Linked DNA regions of Homo sapiens. The protein of the gene in region 1 purifies or fractionates together with the protein of each later gene. This does not show direct contact. Each region holds a gene or a part of one and is shown on either strand. Other genes may lie near its edges. The genes, in order: GAN, ZNF469, CTNNA2, ZC3H13, CUX1, MAP4K3 and SPTBN5.

Region 1 (3,500 bases):
ATAACAAAAACTAATTTAAGAACATTGAAGGAGACATCACAGGAGAAAATGCAAACTATAAGAAGAGGCAGAAGTAAAAACAGTATAGGTAAAAGAGTGAGGACTTATCCACTAGAGAAAATTAACCAGAGCTAGGTTTTACTCCTATCACATTACTATTACTCATAATAACAATCCTCGGGAAAGTTCTACGATAAATCTGAACACCCCACACTTCCCTCTATGCTACAGACACTAGTCTAACAAGAATTTTGTTGATTTGTTTCATCATTTGAAACCTTCCAAAAACCTCTCCAGAATTAGAACATCTACTGCTACTAATAGTGGCAACCACTGTGTTATATAAAATAAACAAATATCTTTAAACTGACATGAGTAATCTGTGTTAAATTGAAATTTACAAGTGCTTAGTTTCCTTAGAAGCCTGGATAAAATATGTCTTTGATCTTCTGAAACTGAACATAGTTATTATCGCTTTTGAAAAACTCAGTAAGAATAGGGTTTAATCAAACAAGGTTGTGATTACAAAAAAGAAAAAAGGAAAAAAAAAAGAAAAGGAAAATCACTGAGAACCATTAAACTATCAAGACCTTCTGGACAAATTTCATCTTCTGAGCAGTTGTTAGGAACGCCTTATAGTAAGTAGATAAAAACAAAGTCTAGATCCCTTAAAAGAGACTCAAGCCCAGCTTATTTTCCATCACCATAAGAGTACAAGGAACAGGTAATGTCAATTTTATTTTAAGTGTGCTCAGGATTTCAAAAGATACTCAGAAACTGGAGCTTCTAACTGAACCCCTGAGCACTAAGAAACTTCACAGGCTACAATCACTATTCAAGATCCTTATGACAATCATTCGGGAGCTGCTATGAAGACTATAAACTCGAAACACAAGTGAAGAAAAGATTATGAAAATATTGTAAAGAAAGCAAAACATTATTAACTGAACATTACTGTGAAATCACTTTGCTTCACAGCCAGACTCTCATTACCAGGGAACACTTAGTGGATACTGCTGCCTCGGGAGTGTATTCTCAGCATTAACAGGGAAGCAAAGAATCTAATAAGAGGCTATGCAGTTATTCACATAAATTAATCAACAAAAGTAAACTGGGGATGAAAAGCAGGCTCTGCACACACCACATAGTACTCACGGACTTTAGTGCCCATGTGACATTAAACTACAGTGTATGTTTCAGATATTCAAAAAATAATGTCTATGTTACTATGAAACTTGGACCTCCTACAGAGATCCTATTAGTCTCCTTAAGTAGTTTCATCAGTATCATCTGTGAGTCAAACTTTATATTTAAATGGCAAAACAGGCTCATCAATAATTAGGCCTTGGAACATACCCAGATTAACAGCATAAAATAAATGATTGTTGTGATACAACTCTACAGGCCTGGATTTATACAACAGAATACCCAATAAAGTCCTGTATGACAGGGGAATGGAAATGCTTTAATATTAACATAAAACAAAACTTTAAATGACACAATAAAGCTATAAAAACAGAAACAGGTCCTCCTCCTCACAACACATACACATGAGGCAAAACAAAAATAGCATAGAGCTACATAACTTAGACTTAAAGGGGATTTGCTGTCCATGTAGCCCAACCACCTCACTTCACAGATAAGGAAGCTAGAGCCCAGAAAAGTCGCTCATGATGACCTAGGCTGGATTTGAGGCCCTATGTCTCATTCTATCCTCACTAGACCTGCCTTCTCTCAAAAAATAAGGGGGGGTCGGGGGGAAGCCACTTACATTCTTAGCTGACTCATCAAAGGATCTAAAAATCTTAGGAATCTTTTTTTTCATTTTCTCTCCAGGACTGAGAGCTAAACAAACTTTTGTTGCAATAGGTCTCCAGAAAACCCTAAATTTTACAAGTGATCACAGGACTGGAAACCTGTACAGAGCCACCATAATGTCACTGCAGAAGCACATAGCCGTTCATTTTCAAATCCTTTTCACATACATTACTCACCAAGAACCACAGCTCAGGAGAGAAATGGGTCTGAACTTTGCATCAGATCAATGGGACTGTGCCAGAATCGGAAGAGCCTCAGACATGAAGCAGACCAAACTGTAATATTCAAAAGAAAAATAAATTTCCTGCAAGCCGCAGGGAGCTTTCCCCAGAAGGTCTCAGAGTTGATGAGAAAGAAAAGGCTCTGTGGGTGCTTATGACTATGAATTCGGTTTTGCCATTCTTAGAAAGGTTGTTAGATATATATATATATATATAATCTATATCTATTTTTTTTTTAATTTAAGAGACAGGGTCTCTGTCACCCAGGCAGGCTGCAGTGCAGTGGCAGTCATAGCTCACTGCATCCTGGAACTCCCGGGGTCAAGGGATCCTCCCGCCTCAGCCTCCCGAAGTGCTGTAATTACAGCCATGAGCCACTGCGCCCAGCCTGTCAACTACTTTTAGGTTTAGTTTCCCCAACAAACCAAAGAGAAAATCTCACCCAGGAACCAAAAGGAGGAAAAGCTTTGGGAAAGGAGCATGCTGGGAAAGGGGCATGCATGCCATTTACTGAGCTGAGGGACCGCAGGAGGTCCTGCCTCCTTCCTGGAGCAGCTGCACCCTAGGGCTGCATGACACGTGCTCTCTCTACATAACCCGGGGATGCCAGTCCTCTCTGAGCTGACCATGAGGGTGTGTTGCCAAAGCTGAGTTTTCTGGCCTTTTCCTTTTATATTTAAAATCTTTCTAATATGGTAGGATTGCTAAGGGTGTCAGCAGGAAAAACAAGGGCTAGACCAAAGATAAAGCAGAATAAAAGATTAAACCAATAAGTCAAAAGACTTTTCTATATTAAGTAGAAAGTATGCCAAACAAGTTACTTTAATTCCCAGTGTGACAGAGTTGGACTGGCTTCCTTTGTTGGGCACATAGTAAGCAAAAGACAATACTGCTCCTATTTTTTATATACATGATTTATTATTGTACAGACTGGGTCTCACTATGTTGCCCAGGCTAGTCTCGAACTCCTGACCTCAAACGATCCTCCCGCCTCCACCTCTCACAGTGCTAGGATTACAGGTGTGAGCTACCATGCCAGGCCATACCACTGCTTCTAAACCACACAATCACACAACCACTTATGACAGTTACCAACACTAGGCCAAACACAGACATTAAACAAAATCAGAATTTTATAAAACTTCAGAGATTACCAAACTTTTGAACATTCAATTCACAGATTAATGATATCACAGATCTAAATGCTTAAGTTTCAAAAGGGAAAGATAAGAAACATCAAGTTCTAGAATACATAAATATATTTTGTTTCAATATAATTCTCTAAAGTGCTATTCAAACAAACAAGTACATTATAAAAGCCCAATATTATTGGTATTAAAATTACCAGTAAAAATACAAAATTAACAAATTTCTTTCTAGTTAGTGATACAGATTCGTCAAATTACTTTGAAACAGCTTCGGAATTGATAATTTTTAAAAACATCCCAAGACATTCTATCA
Region 2 (4,123 bases), 7.1 Mb from region 1:
AGCAGCTGTTCCCAGAGCCTGGACTCTTAACTACTACACAGGCATTCCCCACATCATCAGCCCTATGTTTGGACAAGGAGGCAGGCAGGGTAACAGAATTTTTTTTTTTTTTTTTTGAGACAGAGTCTCACTCTATCACGCAGGCTGGAATGCGGTGGCACGATCATCATTAACTGCAGCCTTGAACTCCTGGGTTTAAGCAATCCTTTCTCCTCAGCCTCCCTAGTAGCTGAGAGTACAGGTGCACACTACCATGCCTGGCTAACTTACTTCAATTTTTTTTTTAGTAGAGATGGGGTCTCACTATGTTGCCCAGGCTGGCCTCAAACTCCTGGGCTCAAGTGATCCACCTGTCTCAGCCTCCCAAATTGCAGGGATTACACAGCCACCATCCCCGGCTGGTAACTGAATTATTAGTAGGAGTCAGAACCGGAAGGGAGGGTAGGGGGCTTGTCTTGAAACCATCTGGGCTCCAGATGAGTCCACCATGGCCTGATATCTAGGGCACTATCGGTGGTGACAAGACTCCAGGAGAAAGGAGGGGAGGGCATCTCTGCTTCCAGGCCACCCTGGTGTTCAGGTTTACTTCCGTTCAGCAAACACGAGGAAAGGGCAGAAACCCACTGAATTTCTCCCAGGGGAAGGTGGCAGGATGGGGCCTGACCAGGAATGTCAAGTCAGAAATGACCTGAAGAGATTAGGCATACAGGGGGAGACCATCCCTATTAAAATTATCCAAAGGCAGCCATGTGTAACAGCTGAGCAGATGTGCTGCCTGCTGCCTCAGGATGATGGACCAGTGCATTCCAGCTGGTAGGACTGCAGGAATGGCTGGAACAGGCTGCTGTGATGGGGAGTGAGTTCCCGGTCACTGGAGGTATCCAAGCAGAGTCAGTAACCTGGAGGCAGGGTCTGGTGGAGACTGAAGCGCTGATGAGGGGGTTGAAGTTCATGACCCCAAAATTTCCCTTGACCCTGAAATCCTGGGACTTCCTGGTTTGCACACTGCCCAGAGCTGCCAGCCTCGGGGCATTACAGCCACACACCCTTCACCTGTGCCTCCCAAGCTGAGACTCTGCGGGGCCCCTGGGTTCCCTTTGAGAAGGCCCTGGCCTTCCTTTTTGCCTCAGATATCCTCTTCCTCTTTTCTATTTGCAGGGCAGAATGATCACCTCCCGGTGAGCTCTGTCCTGTGGTCTGGGACCTGCCAGGCGCATGGCATGGAAGACACGTCTCCCAGGCCACCTCCTCCGAGGGTGCCTGGCTGCCCTTCCTAAAACTGCAGCTCCGCCCCAGCTTCCGAGCTCCCTGCTCAGCCCTCACGCCCGACGCTGTCCAGGCATTTACCTGTTTATTTTGTTTATTTTCAGGAATGCAGGGCTGTGGGCTGTGCTGGGGGCACCTAGGACAGGCTGGGCACTGAGAGGGCCTCAAGACACCTTTGTCCACCCGACCGGCAGAAGGGAACTAGACTTGCTCTTGGCAGAATGGGCAGGGGCTGTCCACGACACTACCGCGTGCTGTGCTCACTTCCCAGCATCAGCCCACTCTGACCATCAGTTTCTGCATCTAAGACTTGGGTTAACACGGATCTCAGGACGTAAGGATTAAACGTGATAACACGTGGCACACTCCCTATGCCCAGCATGGCTCACGGCTGGGGATGAAGCAGTTAACCGCCTCCGCTGCAGGAGCGGACTTGGCAGCTGAGCTGCCCCCCCGCCCCCGCCGGGGACCTGTCCCTCTGCCCTCGGCCCAGGGTGCAGGGACAAGGACTGGGTGGCCGCGGGAGTCCCCCGAGCCCCATTGGCCTTCCCTTCCGGCCGCCGCCACGCGGGGCGCCGCGTCCCCACGGGTCTAGACGTCCAGCCAACTTCCCGGCTCTGCAAAAGCCTCTGGGGGTGCGCGGGGCTGGGCGGGGGTGCGGCGTGGTCTCCCCCAGGGTGGGCTCCAAAGCTCCCACCCCCGTCCGGGGCGCTGACACCGCCGACTCGCAAGCCTATGCCGCGCTCGGAGCGCCGCGGGGCCAGCACGCCCGGGCGGGCGGCCCGGAGGAGGCGGCGGCACGGCTGGGGCACCCCCGGCTCCGATCCGCGATGAATGGGGCGGCCCGGGCCCCGCTCCCCGCAGCCCCGCCCGGAGGTCCCGCTCCCCGAGCCCCTCGCTCCGCGGCCCTCGCCAGTACGTTGCCCGGGCGCTTCCCAAACTGCCCACGGAGCCGGACCCCGCGCTGCCAACGCTCCGCTCCGGGCAAGGCTGCGGCCCCCGCCGGGCCCCGGCGCTCGCTGCCCCGCACGTCCGGGCCCGGGAGGAGGAGGTCGGGGGAGCCGGGCCGGGCGCCGCGAGCGCTGGGAGGGTCCGGCCCCGCCGGGGAGCGGCCCCCGAGGGCGCAGGAGCGGGAGCCGGGCCGGAGACCCCCGCGCAGCCCGGTGACACCCCCGCCCCGCGTTCCAGCCCGGGGTCCCCAGGCACCGCGCGCGCCCAGGCGGCGCATCCGCACTCACCTCCGCTCCGAGGCCCGCTCCGCCCGCCACGCCGGCCGCCGCCAACGAGCTCCCGGCCCGCGCCGCCCCAGCGCTCTGCAGCGGAGGCGCCGTCCTCATCCCGACCGCAGGCCCGCCCGGGCCGCCCGCCCGCCGGGCACCGAGCCGCTCTGCCGCGCGCTGCGCCTCGGGGCGGGGTGGGAGGAGAGGGAGCAGCCGCCACCCTGCCCAGGTCGCCGCGGGCCAGCCCTGCAGCCAGCTCCAGCCCTGGGCCGGGTGCTGGGAAGGCCGGACGCCGGCCGGCGGCCGCGGGGTCTGCCCCCCGGAGGCTGGGGCGGCTTAGGTTACAGACTCCGCCGCCCCCGCACCCTCCCCCCAGCTATTTTTAGCGCCGCTTTTCCTAGGTGTTTGTTTCATGGGACCCACCCCGGCGATGGGGGGCCCTGAGGCATTGCTCCCTGAACCCCCTCTTCACACTCCCCAGCCAGCCCACCCCAGAATGGCAGGCCTTGCTGCTGAGACGGAAACGCTGCATTCAGCACAACTTAAAAAACGTCTGCCATAATGCTACCCATGTGGCTTCCAGTGGCTGCTCTATCTCCATCCCTGGCCTGCGCTCCAGCTCCCCAGGTGCCCACACATGACACGCTTGTCCCTGTGCTTCTGTCTAGGAGGTGGGGGATGTCCCGACTGGCACCTGGCACCTGCCTGGGCAAGTTCGGTTTGAGTGGCTCAAGTTGGCCCTCGAAGGCACCATAAGGAGGTCCCCATGGCACGCTTTCTCATAGGTGGGAGCTAACATTGCCCCCAGACCTTCGTGTCTCCACTCTGGGTCCCTTGTCCAGCCCTGGGACTGCCCCAGACTGGCCCGTGAGTTCGGCAGCATTGCTGGTGGGGCGCTAGGAGCCATCCAGGCCCCTAGAGAGGGAGAGGCCCTTACCGGTCATTTGTCCAACATCTCCATTCACAGCCAAGGAAACCAAGGCCTGAAGAAGACAAGGAACCTGCCCAAGGCCACACGGCGGAGATGGCTCCAGGCAGAGCCCCCTGGCCCAGTACGTGCCCGTCCCCGGCTGTCCCAGACAGGGGCGTGTGGGCCTCCTCCAAGGGCAGGGGTGCAGCGTTACGGGCAGCATCTGGGGACGGATCGCCCTCCCCCACTTCAGAGGATCCCAAGTCATGAACTTGGTGGACTTCTAAGAAATAGGGTGGCAGTGGGGGGACTTCGCAGAAAGGAATGCTTTCAGAATTAGTCCTTCAGACAAAGGTCCCCCGGGAGCAGGTCAAGCACGCTTTACTTACGCAAGTTCAAGTTGCACACCCTTTTAAGGACACCTTTATTATGTAAAGCAAGGTGTGGCCTAACCACGGGCCTTCTGGTGGAGCCAATGAGTGGGCCTGCCCCTCCCCCAATCTGGTCTGCCTCCTGAAGCTGTTTTGGGACTCTGCGAACGGTATAGAATAAACTAAAAGGAACTGCACATGGCAGTGGGGTTTCTGTGCTGGCATCGCAGCACATGGCATTCCTGCCAGTGGACGCGAAAACGTGAATTGAAAAAGGGGCAGGGGCTGAAAGGCCCCAGAGGCTCGAGGCTTGGCTCACATTTCCATGGCATCATCTGGGGCCTCCAGGTCCTGGG
Region 3 (3,115 bases), on another chromosome or scaffold:
ATTTACTAGAAGCCTTTTGGAGACATGGTAATGTGATAACTTGTAGCAATCATTCCAATGAGAGGAGTTTGGAGAATTCAGGTGACTATTTGGGGACTTTTTCTCCATTTCTCAGTTCATAGTTGAAATACTATCACCACTTTTTAATAATGGGACAGAGGTCCTGTTTTTCCAACTTACTTAAAAGGAAAAAGTCTAAAATGAGTAAAATATTTTTAAATTAATTGGCTCTTCTATTACAAAGAAAGACTGTCATTTTCAATGCAGTATGAAAGTGAATGAAAACAAGTGGAAAAACAAACCACAAAATAAATATGTGAACTCTAAAAATGACAATTATTTGGATATCATCTATTTTATTACTAATCTCTAAAATTTTATTACTAATCTCTAAAAACCAAAACATAATGCATTTTTTTAATGAATTTTCAGGAAGATGATGCTCTAATCTTTATTAAGTACATACTTAAAAAATTAAAAAAGAAAACATACTTGAGATGTCAAGATTAAATGTGTTTATTTTGAGTTAGTTAGTGAATACAATGGTATATTAGATACCAGCACTCCAAGCTACACCTATGTATTTGCCTCTAACTTTCACACGTTGTCAGTTTCCTTCCCTCTAATATTCCACCACTGGGCCTTCTATTTCTAGCAAAATCATGGTTCAAATTAAAAAGAAAAAAAAATGAAAGCAAGATTGGTCACCGTATTGTGCTTCCAGTGCCCCCAGAAGGATTTTAATTGTCTCAAATAGATGTTTATTGTTTTCATTAAAGGGGGGAAAAAAACATGATCACTAGTAATGGCACAACTAGAAGAGGAAACAGAATGCAGATTAAAAGAAGCATTTTAGGCTGGACTAGTTAATTTCCCCTCAGTTAAAAATCGACATAATATCACGGATATAGACTTCAAGGTTAAATTGTTCAATTCATGGGCCACACACTTAAGCGTATTGGCTAGTACATTTTTGCACTGAAACAGAAGCAATACAAGTTTTATGTTCTACCATTACACTTCCAGATTTTTCACTTATGCATATACCTGCCAACCTAATGATTCTTGCATGCATTAGAGTTTGCTTTTGTAGAGTTAAGTTTATTTTCCCCATCCCTCCCACTCCCATAAATATTGCGCCAATGCGAACTCTGTGCCCAATTTTATGAGAATGTTGCAAAGGACAGCTCTGTGCCACCTTAGTACAGGAATGTCCTGTCTCCTTCCCAGGCTACAGATGGATCAGTAGTATTGATCTCATCTCATCTTACATGCAAACAGACACTGTTCCCTTAATTTCCCCATGCCAGAGGCATACGAGCTGGCAGGTATGCATACAAAAATGGAATTAAAAAGAAAAAGAAAGAAAGAAAAGAAAGAAAAAGCTTTCTTGTTAAAACCTATCGTCCTAGAAGGAATCCATTGCTTTGAATTCACTTAAAGCCTGTACAGGCGAAATGTGTTTCTTCTGAGAACCTCGTCGAACTCGTGTCTGGAATTCTTCAGGCTTTTCTCTCTTCACAAGGGGCTTCTTCTCTGGAGCCTTCATCTTCCAAGACACAACAGGTGAGTTGACAGCTGCTGTCCCATAGACCTTCTGGTATTTGGTTGAGGCCACATAGGATGCTTTCACCGTGAGGACAACAGCATTCATCAGGTTTTTAGCTGCCTGGATAAGCGATGTGGCACTGTCCAGCTAGAGTAGGAAAAGAATGAGATACATGTGGGTTAATGGAGGCCCCAAATTCACAAAATGGTGATGTACTTTCACGGTTAAAATAATGTTTTCCTTGTGCAAATAAATAGTATTGCTGAAAAGGAGCAAATTATCACAAGTTAAGGTTTTTAAAATCTCAATACAGCTAATGGCAAAGCCCTCATCTTAGCAGGTAGGAATTCCAAGGTAACAAAAGTTTTCCAAAGTAGAACATCTCATATTATTACATTAGGGTAATTAGCAATGGTGACATTTACTCAAATGTTGGACAAGCATTTGGCAGACACTAAAGAAAAAAAGTTATAAGGGGTTACCTCTCAATTTTATGGCCCAAGAAATGGAAGTATCTATCTATAGGCTATTTCTGTATCTTGAGCTCAGGGTTGGTGAGGATACAGTCATTTAGGCAGAAGAACAATCCATGGGTGTTCTTGCTTCTATGAGGTGTTAATTGAGCTTGGAGTATCAATTTAACTATTAACAGGTCCTCAGTATACCTCCTATATAAATACTGATACTTATGTCAGGATCTCATAGCATTCAGTGAGACCTTCTCATACATGCATTAATGAAATATTCAGTATTTACTATGTGCCAAATACTATTATGAGAAATTTGTATTTTCCCACTTAGCTCTTGTTAACAACTCTATAATATAGGCATTATCGTCATGCCCTTTTAGAATGAGAGAGCTGATACATGCAGAGGTCCAGTAACTAGCACAGGTTTTAGTCTTTAAAGATACTACTCATCTGTACTGTCACCTTGTTGGATAGGATGGCTTTTAAAAATGCCAAGACAAGTCACAACTTGAGAATAGGTTTAGAGGCCCATCACCAGACTTTTAGGCCAGGAATATTTTGGGTTACCTTTTTTCTGTCTTTAAGTAGTTAGTGTGGTATGTACTGTATACTAGATCATTCAATATCTTCTTCAACCTTCTTGCTTCACTGCCTGCATCACAGATGCTGGGGTTATGTCTCAATGTTATAGCCCAACCAATGGAAGTACCTATTTATCTATACACTATTTCTATATCCTGAGCTCAGGATTGGTGAGGCTCAAAAATGCATTTCCTAGACTCTCCATCAGCCAGGAGTCTACATGTGAGCTAGTGAAAGAAAAGAATTAACAGCTGAACTGCAAATATCATTCCAGCCTCAGGGATGTTTGAGCATAGTCTGATCTTTCATCAAACTTCTTGTAACATCAACTAATGAGATATATCAATTACAGTTAACTGAAGGAAGCAAAGATGTTCTTAAGTATGCTGTTCCTAGTTGGAGAGATTATTTGTTGTGTAGCCTGTAATTCATGAACTTCATGAACTGTAGCTGCATTAAGCCTTCTGGGGGCTAGGTGACTAAGAAAGTGTTTAAACTGAGAGACTGTAGATCT
Region 4 (3,500 bases), on another chromosome or scaffold:
CAACAGAGTATTTTCTGACAACTAAAATGGGGGGAGAGAACTTAATCCTTAACACAATAAAAAGTATCTGCAAAAAATCTACAAACACCATACTTAGTAATAAAATGCCAGCAACAATCCTTTAAAATCTGAAACAAAGCAAAGCCCCTTCTACTTATATATATATATTTTTTTTTTTTTTTTTTTTTTTTTTTTTTTGAGACGGAGTCTCACTCTTTCGCCCAAGCTGGACTGCAGTGGCGCTATCCCGGCTCACTGCAAGCTCCGCCTCTTGGGTTCATGCCATTCTCCTGCCTCAGCCTCCCGAGTAGCTGGGATTACAGGCGCCCACCACCACGCCCGGCTAATTTTTTTGTATTTTTAGTAGAGACGGGGTTTCACTGTGTTAGCCAGGATGGTCTCGATCTCCTGACCTCGTGATCCGCCCGCCTCGGCCTCCCAAAGTGCTGGGATTACAGGCGTGAGCCACCGCGCCCGGCCCCTTCTACTTATATTTAACACTGTATTGATAAAGATGCTCAGAAGGTTACTGACAGAAAATTAATAATCAGAAAAGAAGAGCCAAATCAGTGTGTTCCTAGGAACATCTGTTAAGAGAATCTAATTAGATCAAGAAAATACAGCAACATCATTTAAATGTAAGATTAATACACAAATGCCAATTACCATTTCCAGGTACCAACAAAGCATTAGAAAATGCAATGTTTTAAAAGACACCATTTAGTGACATATGTACACAGTTATTCACTAAAGCACTGTTTGAAAGAGATAAAGATTGGAAAACCAAAATACCCAGTAATGCAGCACTTGCTGACTTTATGGTATATTCTACAATAGAGAACAAGTACCAAAAGAAGAAAATAGCTGTTTACCACAAAGAAAGACATGAAAGATATTTTTACTAGTTGAAAATAGTAGGATATAAAACAGTACATAGTTTTTTCCAGTGTTTTTAAAAATTAGTTTTGTAAAACCAGAGGGGAAAACAAATGGATATATATTTGCTTGTGTAAAATGTTTTTTGGGAAGAATACATACAAAGCTGGCAAAAGAGTGGTCAGGGTACAACGGAGGCTTTTCACTATATATCCTTTTATACATTCAAAATTTTGAACCATGTAAATACATAATTTACATCTTACAAAATGTAAAAGTACTATTTAAAATGGCAATAAAAAATAGAGGATACACAGGAAAAAATGTAAAAAATATTAATGAGAAATATTATAAATTGATTAAGTTGATGCATTGAAATAAAAATCCAACAGTTTTTTTATGAAATTAAAAACTGTTTTCTAAAATTGATATGAAAAAGTAAAAGGTCAAGAAAAGACAAGGCAGCTCAAAGAAGCTAAAGGACCCTCAACACAAATATGAAGCTGTAATACTGACCAAGGATTGACTAACAGACCAATGGAAAGAATAAAAGTGATCAAAGTTCTGCAGCAGTGTTTGGGGAGAGGGGAGAAAAGCAGGTGGAGGTAAAGAGAGGTCATGATAATTAAGTCTCAGCAGTTTGGAAATAGTTACAATATATTTAAGTCATTTGGGTGATGGCAAATACTTTTTATGAAAAGAAAAATGGCTCAAGATAATGACGTGTGGCAGTTTGACAGGGTCTGAAGCAAGTACAAATACTGAAGAATACACAAATCAGTCATTTCTGATGCCAACAATTCTGAAAACCCACCACTTTAATCCTACTTTAATTTAATGAACATTTTATCATATTTATACCTATTTAACAGAAAGCAACTTCCTCGTGATTCTACTTTTTTGTCTGATAGTGATTTTCTTAGTGTTCCACATTAATCAAGATGATAGGCATGACTGGATATACTTAGGGGGGGTCTAGCTCAAGCTCCATTTATCTTTTGCTATTTTAACTAGTAATTCCAATTAGGAATTTATAAGGAAGACTACAAGTTCAATTAATTAAAAATTACTGTGACAAAATGATAACAAATGTAAGAAACAACATATTAGAAATCTTAGGAGATTTTATACTTTCTATATAAGATATAGTTCATAGACAAGTCAAAAACCTTACCCTTTTCAGGTAACTCAGGAACCCTCCCCCTACTTCGGCCCATTCGGTCATTTCTAATTTCACTTCGAGACTCATTTCTGGACTCATTCCTTATTTCCGTACGAGAACTTTCTTCTCTCAAATGGTTTCGGCCATAACTCCGGGATTCTTCTGGATATGTATCCTCCTTTCGATGAGTATCTCGACCTTCACGGTCCCTGTAGTCATGGGCATCACGAGTGGACCGAGAATCTCTGGGATCACGGCTCTCTTTGGTATCTCTGCTATAATCTCTCATCTCCCTTGAGTCCCGCATGTCTCTGGAGTCTCTTAGTTCCCTTCGGTCCCTAGTATCTCTGGCATCTCTCCGATCCCGACCATCTCGAGGTTCTCTGTCATCTCTGTGGTCTCTAGAAGAGCTCTGATCCTGTTCATATTCTCGTTCTTCTCTTGAGTCCTTTTCTCTGTCTCGTTTGCCCCTAGTATCTGTAATGCAATTTTGGAAATTGACTGTAATTGCTTTTACAAAGTTTCAGGAAACTAGAAAACATATTTAATACAGAACTTTAAAAATTTTATTATAATGACAATTCGTGTTCTTTGCAAAAAATAAAGAAGCTAAAATTCCAAAGATAATTAACACCTGATAAGAATGTTCTTCATTAGATAAACTCCGAACATGAATTTCCTCTGCCCCAACTTACCTATACTGCCCCAACTCACCCCAACTTACCAGATCCTAAACAACTGAAACAAATAAGTTCATCTCCTATCATTGACGGCTTACTTTTCAGAAACCACTTTTAGATACAAAGACACTTCAGTTACTTTAATCTTTTCTATCAACTATTAAGTTAGGCTAAACTAGACCATCTGTGACCTCCTCAAATGTACTTAAGCACTTTAGGGTAGCCTATGGTTAGTAAGCTAGCTGGTTGAGTGATACTATTATTCACTCTCTTTTCCTGCACTGTTTAATGGTATAACATTCATGTGTGCAAGTCTTTAAAGCTTTCTCTACTTAGAGCATTTTCTAGCTGGGTGACGTGGCATGTACCTACAGTGCCAGCTACTTGGGAGGCTGAGGTAGGAAGATCACTTGAATCCAGGAGTTTGAGTTCAGCCTGGGCAACATAGGAAGATGAGACTTTTTCTCTTTAAAATGAACGAACAAAAAAGCATTTCATACAAAAAAATAAATACTTGCACTTTTTAAAAGCTGAACCACAGTGATTATCTAAACAAACCATGTCATTTTATAATAAAGAAATAGAGGCCCAAAACTTAGATGGCTTAGTCAACCCCATAATTTGCAAAGATTAGAAACCACTCTTTACATATATTTAGAAAGGGCACAAATTGATTATAACAAATCTGATATGAAGCCAAAGAATTAACAAGAGAACCTCAAAGGATAAATTCTGCCCTTTTTATCAGATTCTTCTGCAAGGTGCTCTTATACTCTGGAATT
Region 5 (3,500 bases), on another chromosome or scaffold:
GGAATGAAAAGTTTTATGTGGGCCTGGTGGCTCATGCCTATAATCTCAGCTCTTTAGGAGGCTGGGACAGGAAGATTACTTGAACCCAGGAGCTCAAGACCAGCCTGGGCAACAAAGCAAGACCCTGTCTCTAAAAAAAGAAAAAAATTAAAAATTAGCCAGGCATGCTGGTGAGTGTCTGTAGTTCCAGCTACTGGGAGGCTGATGTGGGAGGACTGCTTGAGCCCCGGATGTCCAGGCTGCAGTCAGCTATGATTATGTCACTGCACTCTAACCTGGGTGACAGAATGAGACCCCGTCTGAAAAGGAAGGGAAAGGAAAAGAAAAGAAAAGAAGAGAAGAGAAGAGAAGAGAAGAGAAGAGAAGAGAAGAGAAGAGAAGGAGGGGAGGGGAGAAAAAAAGTTATACGTGGATTTTTGACTGTGCAGGTGGGGTAGGGGGAACAGCAGAAGGGATCAGCCCCTAATCCCCATGTTGTTCAAGGGTCAACTGTATTTTAACCAACACTTATGTTACTTTGCAAAGAAAGATAATTAATGGGACTGAAAAAGTAACACTTATGTTACTTTGCACAGAAAGATAATTAATGGGACTGAAAAAGAAACATCTATTCCATAGGTGTACCTATCAGTAGCTTTCAAAACACAGCCATTTTAATATAATCTACCTGCTTTCACTATATTAAAAAAAAGAATTAATTTTGCATTCTTAACCAGCTGAATGAGTCCTAAATCGGACACACAAGGCAGAGAGTGGGGGCCTGTGTGGCGATGGTGTGGTGGGTACCCAAGGGATAATCAGGGCAGAGGGAGGGAACCCAAGCTCAGAGGGGAGCCCTAGAGATCCCCGGCCACCCCACGACTGTTCTGCTGGAAAGCCCTGTCTCCCACACCTCCCCAAGCACACAGAACTCAGTGGGCGCCCCCTGCCCACTCCCCGACCCGCCTTCCAAGCCCTTCCTGCAGCCTTCCCAGAGGCTCAGACACACTGCTCCATCCATCCCAGCCTCGTCCTGCCAGTCCTGTCCGCCCTCTAGGCGGGAAGCCACTGCTATTTTAAGTCTCCATCACTACTGCCGGGCACACAGGGGCAAAAGAAAAAGGAATGCATGAAATAGGCTTGAAGGCCGGGCGCAGTGGTTCACCTCTATAATCCCAGTACTTTAGGAGACCAAGGAGGGAGGATTACTGGAGCCCAGGAGCTCAAGACCAGCCTGGGGAACAGGGCAAAACCCTGTCTCTAAAAAAAAAAATGGAAAAATCAGCCAGGCGTGGTGGTGCATGCCTATAGTCCCAGCTACCCGGGAGGCTGAGGTGGAAGGATTGCTTGAGCCCGGGAGGTCAAGGCTTCAGTGAACTATGATCTCACCACTGCACTCCAGCCGGCAACAGAGCAAGACCCTGCCTCAAAAAATCAAAAACAAAAAAAAACAAAAAAATTCTGAAGTAGGCTTGAAGCTCAGATGTACAGAGGGAGGAGGAGGGAGCTCCCCCAAATAAGCAAGATTCTGGAGTCATTCTAGCTGGGATGGAAAAGGTTTAGGTGGGGCAGAAAGGACTATCAGGAACTCTGTCTGCTACCCTAAGAAATGTGGTCTCCACTCTGTGCCTAAGTGGGCCACCATGGATGTTTAAGGAGAGGAATGGCATGATGAAATCAATGGTTCGGGAAGATTAATCTGGCAGCTGCATTTATAATGGATTGCGACCTGTTTCGAATGGGCAGTTTTGAAACAAGTAAAAGACGACGCACTCAGCTCGTGTGTTAGAAAGACTTGGCTCTCACACACAATAAGCAGCCCCGAAGACTAACTGCGCGCGCGCGCGCACACACACACACACACACACACACACACACACACACACACACACAGATTTCATTAAGGTATCAGGGCGTTTTAAGATGACAGCATAATTATATACCAACACAGAGCCACGTAAAACAATCACAAACTACTTCTTACTCCCCTGACAATGACATTCAACCATAACTGGCAATATCCTTCCTCTCCCAGTCCCACATCGATGCTGACAAACTGCGGGATGACAAACTGCGGGACCAGGGCTGAGGACCAGGTGGAGGGGAAGAGATGACCAAGCCTTCCCTCTGGGACGGCCAGCTCCGGATGGTAGCTTTACGATTCCGCAGCACAGCTCTCCAAGGGCCCTGGCCACCTTGTGGTCCTCCAGGCTCATCGGTGACTGCAGGCTCCTGGATCCCATGGAGCAGAAACCTGAACTTGTCTCCCACTTGGCTGAGTGACGAGACAGCATGCGTTACTGTGTAAGCAACGAGTTGAGATACGGCTGAAATAAAGCAATTCTGGTAAATGAATGTTTCTATGCTGGTTTAAACACATGCTCCTCTGCTCTCAATTTTCTGTCTCAAACCTGTATGACTTATAACATCTCTACTGTGTGAATAGGAAGGGAAGATGGGATTTGATTAACAGCTCTGGTCGTAATTTTAGCTGTAATCTCTGTATGTTGGGGACTCCAGCCCTTTTTCTTTTGAAAGGTTGGTATTCTCCGGGCGGTTGCTGACTACGCTCTCGGCGAGGACACAGCAGAACTGTATGCAGCAGAAATAATTCACTGGACCCAGGACTGCATGGGTTCAAGTTCTGGGTCAACTACTTGGTGAAAAACAGAAAATAATATGTTTCACCATTATCTGCCACACCTTTCAGAGTGACACAGAAATGGTGACGGGAGCCACAGAATGTTCCCAGTTCCAGAGGGAGAACGAAAGTCTTTTCCAAACCTCATCAAAAACGTTACATGTATACGATTCCCTCCAGCGAGAATTTTATTTTTAATTTTCATTTACATAGTATCTTTCTTCCAAGAATCTCAAAATAATGGAGCTGTAGAAATACTTGTTTAAAAAAAAAAGTTGTCACAACACAGGAAGGGACAGGCTTGGCAGGGCAGGAGAAGGGCGAGAAGTGACAGGCCGTCCTGACAGCAAGGGCTCCAGGTAACACCCGGAGGCTAGGCTGAGGGCGGCTCCAAGCCGGCCCTTCCCTCACTGCAGCCCACGGCTTTACCAATGCTCACAGCTTCAGGCTCTTCAAGACAAAGATTTACCTTTGGTATCATCTGCTACCTTTTATCAAATTATTTTTTATCTAAATAATCATTTCTTCCCTAGAAACAGGAGGGGAAAGTGGTAATAAGCCAGAGAAACTTACAGGCCCAAAACAACAACTCAACAAAGGTGTCTAAAAAGAGTGGAGGCCAGGCACGGCGGCTCACACCTGTAATCCCACCACTTTGGGAGGCCGAAGGGGGTGGATTGCTTGAGGTCAGGAGTTTGAAACCAGCCTGGCCAACATGGTGAAACCCTGTCTCTACTAAAAACACAAAAATTAGCTGGGCGTGGTGGTGCACACCTGTAATCACAGCTACTCGGGGGGGCTGAGGCACGAGAATCACTTGAACCTGGGAGGTGGAGGTTGCGGTGAGCGGAGTTTGTGCCACTGCACTCCAGGCTGGGCG
Region 6 (4,161 bases), on another chromosome or scaffold:
GAGACCTTGTGGCACAGCAGGAATTAGGTATTCCAACTACTACTTAAAGATCTACACTGACTCAGAGTGTGGCTACAACTCAAATGCTAAACTAAATGTGTGCCTCAGTTTCTCCACTGGAAATGTAATACATTATCTGCCCATCTCCTATCTTTAGAGAGGCAGCACTGCCAATTGGTTAAGAATACAGTCCCTAATTGGTTCAAATTTTGGCTTTGCCACCTACCAACTTTGGCAAGTTAATCTCCTTGTGCCTCAGTTTATTCAACTGCAAAATGGAGTTAACAATAGCACCTATCTCACAGGGTTGCTGTTAGGATTAATTAGAAAAATCTTATAGTGCCTGGCAAGTAACAAGCATTCCATAAACATCAGCTAGTATTATCATTATTTTAAACGAATGACAAGATTAACCAACTTAGTATACCTCTATTACACTTAGGAAATTACAGGCCCTAATTTTTTTTTGCTTTTTAATCATGTGGCTTAACTACTAACTGTTCTTTTTAATATAGCAAGTACACAGCCAATTAGTCCTGTAAAAAAATTCACTGTATACCCTGCCACCTAAAACGTATACATTCATCGAGTTTTAGTTAACTTTTCATCGCAATATAAGCGAACTCCCCCAACCAGTCATAAGTGACTTGCATCCATCCACTTCTACTTTCACAGTCATCACCATATTCCTTAACACCATTATTCTTACCTAGACTATCACAGTGGCCTCCCAACTGCTCCATTCCACTCTTCATGCTGTAGTAGGGAGCTCTTTTAAAAACCTAAATCTAATGTCACTCCTCTGCTTAAAAGCCTGCAATAGTTCCCCATTGTCCTAAACAAGTCCGATCTCCTAATGAGAACTAAGAGGCCTGCAAGATCTAGGGCCACCCTCCCGCTCTGGCTGCTCAGGCTATACAGGCCTTCTTTCACATCGGGCCTCAGAGCCTTCACATATCATGCTCCCCTATCTGGCGTAATCCCCTCTCCCCAGTACCCTAAGCAACGCCTAATCATCTCTGAGATCTCAGCTGAAAGGCGATGAGCGTCTGATACCCTAAACAGGATCAGGTCCTCCTATTACATGCTCTCATAACCCTGATCCTAATACTCTTTTCTGCATCACAAAATTAAACGGCAATAATTATTTAAATGGCTATTTAATACTGTCCTTGTCCAAAAAAATAGAAACACTTAGGAAGATTTGGAACCAAGTCTATCGTTTACTGCTACAACCCAAAGTGCTTACTTGCCAAGTATCTCATACATTGTAGGTGGGCTCAATATATCTATATTGCATAGTAGGAAAAGTGATGAGATCCACGATGGTGAAAAGTAGATCATCCAGAAAATCAGACTAAAGCAGAACACTGGCTGCACTGTATTAAATATGTAAGTTACCACAGGCATTACACTGAAGAGTAAAAACCTGCTTAAACATGGGCAAAATAAAGTTAAGACTGAACTTTCCAATGCAAAATTAAGTTTCTTTGTGCATCCTCAGGTGTTATGTGAAACTGGAGGAGTTCAACTTCAGTTACCAGTAAGAAGATACACAACTAAATCAAGACTGCTGCCACATTTGGCAACAACCTCCTCTCTTCTTGGCAGTAACTGTGAGGCCAAGAGTTGAGTTGGCCAGGGAAGAGTGATTTATCTTCCCACATTTAGAAGTGGTCCCTCTACAACAGGAATGCTGTACCGCTACTGGACTTTGAATTCTAACCTTGTCAAACCAGTACCTTCCCTAAGTATTCAAGTCACTTTTTAAAAAACAAGTTTAAATGGCATCGCAGTCCAATTCGACTTAGAGAAAACAAAGTTGCTCTTTCCAAAAAAAAAAAAAAGTCATTACTCTGGAAAATTAAAAGAAACTGACAGGGGGATGAATAAGGCGCTAAAGGCTGAGAGCTGTCGATGGAAGATGGAGGTCGCTCAGCATAGTATAATAACTACCACCGAGGCCTGGTGGGCAGCAGCTCCCAACCTAGAGCGGACGACCCCAGGTTGGCGTGAAGCAGGCAGGTTTGACAACACCAGACCCCTGCTGTCCGGTTCGTCGCGCTGACCCTGCCAACGCAACAAACGCCCAGACCTTCTCTGCACTATGGATGAGCAGTGTGGCCTGCTCTCGTTCTGCCCTTCCCTGGAAATGCGCGCAAGAAGGGAGGTGGCAAAAATCATGTCCACCGGGGGGGCTCAGGTAAGGGCTGGGGAGGTCTCGGGGTTAAACATTCGGCCCTTTGTTCACCAAGGCAGCAGAGCCCTTGGCGTCCGCAGCTCCTCCTCCCCGACTGCTCCCTGGCGCCAGCGTCTCCCGAGGACAGGCGGCAAGGGCTCGGACGCCCAGGCTTGGCTGCGGGTCGGGATCCCACGGCCTCGGCGGCGCGCGGCCCCTGCCTTTACCTTGTAGACGTCGCCGTAGGTGCCGCTGCCGATGCGCTGAATCAGCTCGAAGTCCTCCTGCGGGTTCCGGCGGGACAAATCGAAGCCGGGGTTCATGGCGGGCCCCAGGTGCCCCCCGCCTCCCTCCCGGGCAGGGGAGGGGGGCCGCTCAGGGGGCCACACGGAGAGAGGGCGCCGCGGCCGGCTCCCGGCTCCCCCGGCGGTCACAATCACCCGGCTCCACGCTGCGGCCGCCGCCGCCGCCGCCGCTCCCCTCACGCCGCTGCGGACGACGACAAGCGGCCAATCGTCCCCGCCCCCCGCGGCCCGCCGCCGCGCCGAACCTGGTCACACCCACAAGGAGAGGAGAACCCTCGCAGCCCCTCGCTCGGGGTGAAACTCCAACATGGCTTCCGCTTTCGCCGCTCCTCCCCCTCCCCTTACTCCGGCTCCTCCAACCTCCTCCCCTTTTCCCGACTCCCGCCCGACTGCGCAGCCGCGATCCCGGAGGGAGCGCGCCAGGCCTGGCGCGCACCCGACCCCTTGCGCGTTCCGGCTCCGCGCGCCTGCCAGGCCGGGGCCGGCGGCGGAACAGCTTGGGACCCGAAACGCCTCGGCTTTTCTGCGGACCCGCGCCCGGCCGCTGCCGCCGGACGCTTGAAAAGGTTTGCCTGGCCCAGGGACCGGGGTTAGGACTAGCAGAAAGTGGCTTCTTTTCGTTTCTGATTCCCCTAACGACAAAGTTGGACCTTGGTCTATCTGGTCCCAGTTCCAAGCAGGTAGCATAGTGGTAATATCCAAGACAGCCAATGTCCCAGCCTTTATTATTTTAGAAGCAGCTACATGTAGGATACCATGGAGTGCTGCAGCCTTTCTGGGATTGCGGGGAGGGGTCACTAAACACACCGTGAGGAAAACCCCCAGGAAAAGTGAGCTGTGCTTGCTTGCCCCTGTCACCGACACTCGGACCCTTGGAGTTGGCCTGCCAGGGTGCAAAGGAGGGCAGGCCAGGAGGGCCGCGAGGGAGGTGTGTGCAGTGGGCAGAGCGTGAAAGCTCCGGGAGGAAAACACGCGGAACAGCTGCCCACCATCCCGCGTGGGAGGCAGGCAGAGCGCAGAACTAAAGCAGTGATTGACCTCCCTCTTCGAAGAGGGTTGGATTATCAAAGACGGGCGGGGACTGCGCAGGCTGTCAAGCAACCCTGTAAAGAAGGGGTGGAGAGTGGACTAGATCTATTACCGCACCTGAAATATAAACACGTGACGATCCGGAAGCTCTTTAGCTGTGACCTTACCTACCCAAAAACCCCACCCTGCTTAAGACCCAGATTGCGCGTCTTACATCTGAGCTATGTGGACTCCAGCTCCGATTGTTAATACTTGCCCAAGAAAGCTTGAGGGTAATGGAAGGTTATTTTTCTGTTCTCATTGAACTTCCCAATAGACATTTGCAGGAGCTTTAATCAATTAGGTGATGGCCACTTTGGCAATACCACGTTGGAGTTTTGCTTCAGAAATGCTTTCCTAATCCCCTTAGGCACCACACCTTCTAACCACTAATATTCCCTAATACCTCGTGGCTCCTGAGAAACTAGGTCTCATCAAACCTGTTAAGGATAAGTATAATAAATTAATAGTAGAGCAAACTACTTAGAGTTAACTGCTTCATACTTTTTCAAAAAATCTTTTGAATCCTTTTGCTCATAGGAAAATTGCATATGTACTAAATTCTCAAATTGTTTACTTTGAGTATCTGTTGACTAAATTGATGTTTGA
Region 7 (4,223 bases), on another chromosome or scaffold:
GTGAGACTTTCCATAAGACCTGAAGGGCAACTGGCTTCAGCCGGCCACTACTAGCCCTGTGGGAGGAGCTGCAATCCTGGGTGTCCCCCTAGGTAAACTTTGGTATATCTGGCTGGCCTCTAAAGGATCCCACCCATGCTCCTGGGGTGGATTCCACCTGCCATGTCAATCACCTTGGCTTAGAGTTGGAGCCTCTGGTGAGTGGGGTGTTTGTCTGCTCCTCCCAGCTCCTGAGAGCCTATCCTCCTGACTTCCTATTGAGCGATGTCACGCTGGTGGCTTAAACTCACCGTGATGGGGGGTATTAACGCCATAGGATCAGCGAATACAGCACACTGGAGTTTTTATTTCCCCCAGAGAATCATTTGTTAAACGTTTACCAGCACACCGCTGATCTGGGTTCAATGAATCTGTCTCCCTTTGAAGCCAGGTGCCTTGAGGTGGGGGTCTGGGCTTTGCTTAGTGGAGCCCAGCGCCTGCATAGAATGCCCAGGGCATGGGAGCATCTCCATAAGCGAATGCATCCCTCATTCTGCCACACATTCCCTGTGTGTTTGCGGCAACTCCGTCATCCTTTCTAGACCACAGTTGCCTCCTATGTGTATGGAGACAAGGATGTCACCCTCACAGGTATCAGTGACATGCTGTATATTAAAGCTTGGGGAGAGCTGCAACACCTCTGACAAAGGCTGTGGGGCTTACACCCTTCCCCAGTTCCTGGAGGGGAGATGACTGGCTCACAGGGTCATTGTCCCTGGATCAACTAGGGCCCAGCATTCTGCAGCTGGCAGCGTTCTGCTCTTGCACCTGCTCAGGACAGCAGTCACTCCCATTCCCTTTGCTTGGGCTTCTCCCCTCCCTGGCTTTCCTCCAACACACCCCAGGAGGCTGGATGTAAGCTCCACTCCAGGATATAGTGATAGGCACGCACAGTCAGGCTCCATCCAGCCAGGCCCAGCTCAGTGACTTCACAGCCTCCAGGGACAGCCACCTCCAGGAGCCCTTGGCCTTCACAGTTCCCGGTTTCCAATGATCCCTTTGCCCCACCCCACCCCTGCACCAGCCCCTCACCCTGGCCATGAGGGTCCCTCTGTCCCTGGAGCTCCGGCCTCCTTTTAGTGCCCATCTCCTTAGCCTGTCCCTTTCTTTCAGGTGACTCTGCCTCCCCCCATTTGCTGAGGCCTCCTCCCTCCTTCTCCAAGACAGGCCCTGCTCCTCTTCCCCACCTGCCGTCTTAGTCCCACATCTGGGCTCTGTTGGCTGGTTAACCATCGATCTTGCCTGGTAAATAATTCAGGGCCTCTGTTTCCTCATCTGTGAAATGAAAAGCCTAAGAGAACGCTAAGATTCTTTTGGCCTAGAATCCTGTGAGTCTCTCTTATGACAGACAGTGACATTTTCCACCCCAGTAGGGACCTGGATTGCTACTGCCATGGCCAGCTGGGTGCTCTCCAAGTCAGGGGTGCTGTGCGAGGAGGGCGTGGCTTCTGCTCCTCTGTGTCCCAGCCACTCCTCCTGTACTCAGGCCCCAGCTCCTCTGTTCTGCCCAGTGGCCTGGCGCAGGAAAGGTGACCCAGTAGTTCAGCCTGTCCCAGCTGCCTGCCCCAGCACCATCCCAGACCCCTTTCCCTGGGGCCCACCTTGGCCCTGAGGAAGGCCAGAGCTCGGCTGCTGTTCTCCAGGAAGTGCACACGCAGGCGGCCCCGGCTCGGGGGTGGCAGGGCCTCCCCTGAGATGAGCTCCAGCAGCCGCAGGAGGTGGATGCCGTCAGCCAGCTCTGTGTACAGGTTCCGGATCTTGATGCCCGCCTGGGGAGGGGACAGGGGTAAGTATGGGGTCAGCCCAGCCTCACCTGTCCTCCCATCCTGGGACCTGAGAGGTACGACCCAGAGCAGCTGCTTTGGAAGAAGGAGCTCTGGCCTCAGCTTGGCCTCAGGCAGATGACCCCACAGCTCACCCCGGAGGCCCACTGGCCAGAGCTGGGGGCCTGGTATGGGTGGGCTGTGGGTCACAGCTGGCTATACTCACCTGGCCGCACTGGAAGACGTTATTGATCCACTTGGTGAAAGTCTTCTCCTGCATCTGCATGTGCCGGGCCTGTAGCTTGCGAATGTGGCCCGTCTCGTACTGAGAGTCCATGGTGAGACTTGGACTGGGCGGGACCCGGAGTTCTGTGCTGGGCCTCCTGCTGCGGTGCCCTGCAGCCCCGAGGAGCTCCCGGGGACTGTGGGGCTGACCAGCCATCAGCCCTGCAGACTTTGGGGATGAGGAGCTGCTGGATGGCTCCCTAAACCTGGAGGGCATGCAGATTAGGGGATGATGTGAATGGAGATGGCCCCTCTACCAGGGGCCTGGGGTCCCGCCTTGCCAGACTGTCCTCACATTTCATGGGGGTTGCAGCTTGGAGCCCAGCCAGGTAAGGGCCAGTGCTTCTGGTCCCCTGTGCTTGAATGGCCCAGGGCCCCCTTTGCCCCACCCCACCTTCCAGATTCTTCTTCTCAGAGCCCCTGCTGCCAGGTCCCTCCACCACAGTGACTGGGACAGGTGGAAGGAAGACAGGAAACTGCTTACCTTGGTGATGCCTGGGTCCCACAGAGACGGCTCTGCTGGACGGATGGAGATGGTAGATAGCAGGGGCTGCTTACCTTGGTGATGCCTGGGTTCCACAGAGGCGGCCCAGCTGGACGGATGGAGATGGCAGATAGCAGGGGCTGTGGAGGGAGGGAGAGGGACATCAGGAGAGGCCAAGGCTGGAGCAGGGCTGCACCACAGCCCTCCCCTTGAGCCAGCGTGCTGGGGTGACGGCACACAGGCGGCATTGTCCTCCCACCTGCCACAGGGCGTGGCCCAGACAGGGAGGGGGTGGTTCAGGAATGCTCCAGGGCCATTGCCAGATGATGTCCTCCTTCATCATCCTCCCTTCCCCGCCAGCAACTTCTCCAACTCCAGGTGGGGGTCCTGGCTCCCAGGACGCAGAGGCCCATGGAGCGGCCCTGCCACCGCATGGGGTGCTGCAGTCTGCGTAGGAGGTACCAAAGGGCAGAGCCTCTGTGGGAAGCCTGTGGACGCACTTCCCAATCTGAGACTGCCCTCTGTACCCTCTTGGGGCCTCTCTGTGAGCACCCAGGGCGAGGGGATGAGGGAGCGTCCTGGGCCGTGGTCTTCTCATTCACCCCCAGGGAACAGCCCATAGACTGAGGGCCTCACAGACCCTGGGCTTGGCTTTCCAGGCCCTGCCAGAGTGCAGCCTGCCTAGCCCGGGGCTGAAGGGTAGGCTCCCTGGAGGAAGGGGTGACCTGGAACTGCGAGGGCTGTGGAGTCTCCTCCAAAATTAGAGACACGGTGTTAACTCTGGGCTCCACAGAGCTGGCCGTGGCCCGGGGCTCGGAGGCAGGGGTGCAGAGGGAGCTGGTGGGCGCCCATCCCTTCCTCCCCGAGCAGCCGTGGACTACATGCCAGAGTGAAGGCGAGTTCTAATTCTGGGGGTCTCACCCGCCTCTGGCTAAACTCAGGGTAGCAGTGTGGGCTGGGGTGTGTGTGTGTGGGTGTCTTCCAGCGGCCCTGGAGCCTCTGAAGCGACAGCCCGCTCCTCAGGGAGGCGCTCCTGGCAGCCACAGCCCACAGCAGGACAGCCGCTCAGCGCGCCCTTGAGAGCTGGGCTAGGGATGAGTCACACTTGAACCGCCTGGGCCCACTGCAGGCAGTCAGGGGTGACGCTGAGAGGTGCCGTGGTCTCGGGTGGGGTGCGGCTTCCTGCGTCTGAGAGACGCTTCCTCTCCTGCTGTCCTCTCCCTGCCAGGCCCCTTCTGCAGCGGCTGGCTTCCAGACACCCTGCGTCCCTCCCTTGCTCGCAGCAGTTGCTGTGGCGGTCCTCCCGTGCACCCCCCCTTCTGCCCTCACTGCCCCTGGGGGTCCTCATCACGGACCCCCTAACTCGGCATCCTGGACACCACCACCCCGCACCTTTCCACAGTGCAGCTCTGCTCGTGCCTGTGAAGCCTCCCACAGCCTGGGAAGGAAAATCCAGACTTGCCAGACCTTGCCTCAGCCAGGCCTTGGAAGCCTGCCAGCTTACCTAACCAGGCTAGTCTGCCCCCCTCACTCTGGGTGCTCTCCATGGGCCACTCACCATTTCCTGAGCAGGACCAGAGCTCTCCTGCCCCAAGGCTGGGCTTCAGCTGCTCTTTCAGCTTTGAACGTCCTTTCCCATTCTCCATCATCCA

Evidence for each region.
Region 2: the proteins of GAN (region 1) and ZNF469 purify together in Homo sapiens (affinity purification with mass spectrometry, with the first as the bait; one study listed by BioGRID). This does not show direct contact.
Region 3: the proteins of GAN (region 1) and CTNNA2 purify together in Homo sapiens (affinity purification with mass spectrometry, with the first as the bait; one study listed by BioGRID). This does not show direct contact.
Region 4: the proteins of GAN (region 1) and ZC3H13 purify together in Homo sapiens (affinity purification with mass spectrometry; 2 studies listed by BioGRID and IntAct, with this or other methods). This does not show direct contact.
Region 5: the proteins of GAN (region 1) and CUX1 purify together in Homo sapiens (affinity purification with mass spectrometry, with the first as the bait; one study listed by BioGRID). This does not show direct contact.
Region 6: the proteins of GAN (region 1) and MAP4K3 purify together in Homo sapiens (affinity purification with mass spectrometry, with the first as the bait; one study listed by BioGRID). This does not show direct contact.
Region 7: the proteins of GAN (region 1) and SPTBN5 purify together in Homo sapiens (affinity purification with mass spectrometry, with the first as the bait; one study listed by BioGRID). This does not show direct contact.

Annotation. Positions count from the first base shown.
Region 1 is NC_000016.10:81,317,962-81,321,461, reverse strand, and holds part of GAN (gigaxonin), read right to left. Parts: intron 1-3,500. UniProt on the Homo sapiens protein: Probable cytoskeletal component that directly or indirectly plays an important role in neurofilament architecture.
Region 2 is NC_000016.10:88,381,636-88,385,758, reverse strand, and holds the start of ZNF469 (zinc finger protein 469), read right to left. Parts: upstream 2,801-4,123; 5' UTR 2,505-2,800; intron 1-2,504. UniProt on the Homo sapiens protein: May be involved in transcriptional regulation.
Region 3 is NC_000002.12:80,646,166-80,649,280, reverse strand, and holds the end of CTNNA2 (catenin alpha-2), read right to left. Parts: intron 1,697-3,115; coding exon 1,409-1,696; 3' UTR 501-1,408; downstream 1-500. UniProt on the Homo sapiens protein: May function as a linker between cadherin adhesion receptors and the cytoskeleton to regulate cell-cell adhesion and differentiation in the nervous system. Required for proper regulation of cortical neuronal migration and neurite growth.
Region 4 is NC_000013.11:45,983,247-45,986,746, forward strand, and holds part of ZC3H13 (zinc finger CCCH domain-containing protein 13), read right to left. Parts: intron 2,516-3,500; coding exon 2,051-2,515; intron 1-2,050. UniProt on the Homo sapiens protein: Associated component of the WMM complex, a complex that mediates N6-methyladenosine (m6A) methylation of RNAs, a modification that plays a role in the efficiency of mRNA splicing and RNA processing.
Region 5 is NC_000007.14:101,824,126-101,827,625, reverse strand, and holds part of CUX1 (Homeobox protein cut-like 1), read right to left. Parts: intron 1-3,500. UniProt on the Homo sapiens protein: May be involved in intra-Golgi retrograde transport.
Region 6 is NC_000002.12:39,434,486-39,438,646, forward strand, and holds the start of MAP4K3 (mitogen-activated protein kinase kinase kinase kinase 3), read right to left. Parts: upstream 2,801-4,161; 5' UTR 2,503-2,800; coding exon 2,407-2,502; intron 1-2,406. UniProt on the Homo sapiens protein: Serine/threonine kinase that plays a role in the response to environmental stress. Appears to act upstream of the JUN N-terminal pathway.
Region 7 is NC_000015.10:41,891,254-41,895,476, forward strand, and holds the start of SPTBN5 (spectrin beta chain, non-erythrocytic 5), read right to left. Parts: upstream 2,801-4,223; 5' UTR 2,646-2,800; intron 2,305-2,645; coding exon of another isoform or gene 2,245-2,304; coding exon 2,029-2,244; intron 1,826-2,028; exon of another isoform or gene 1,809-1,825; coding exon 1,641-1,808; exon of another isoform or gene 1,524-1,640; intron 1-1,523.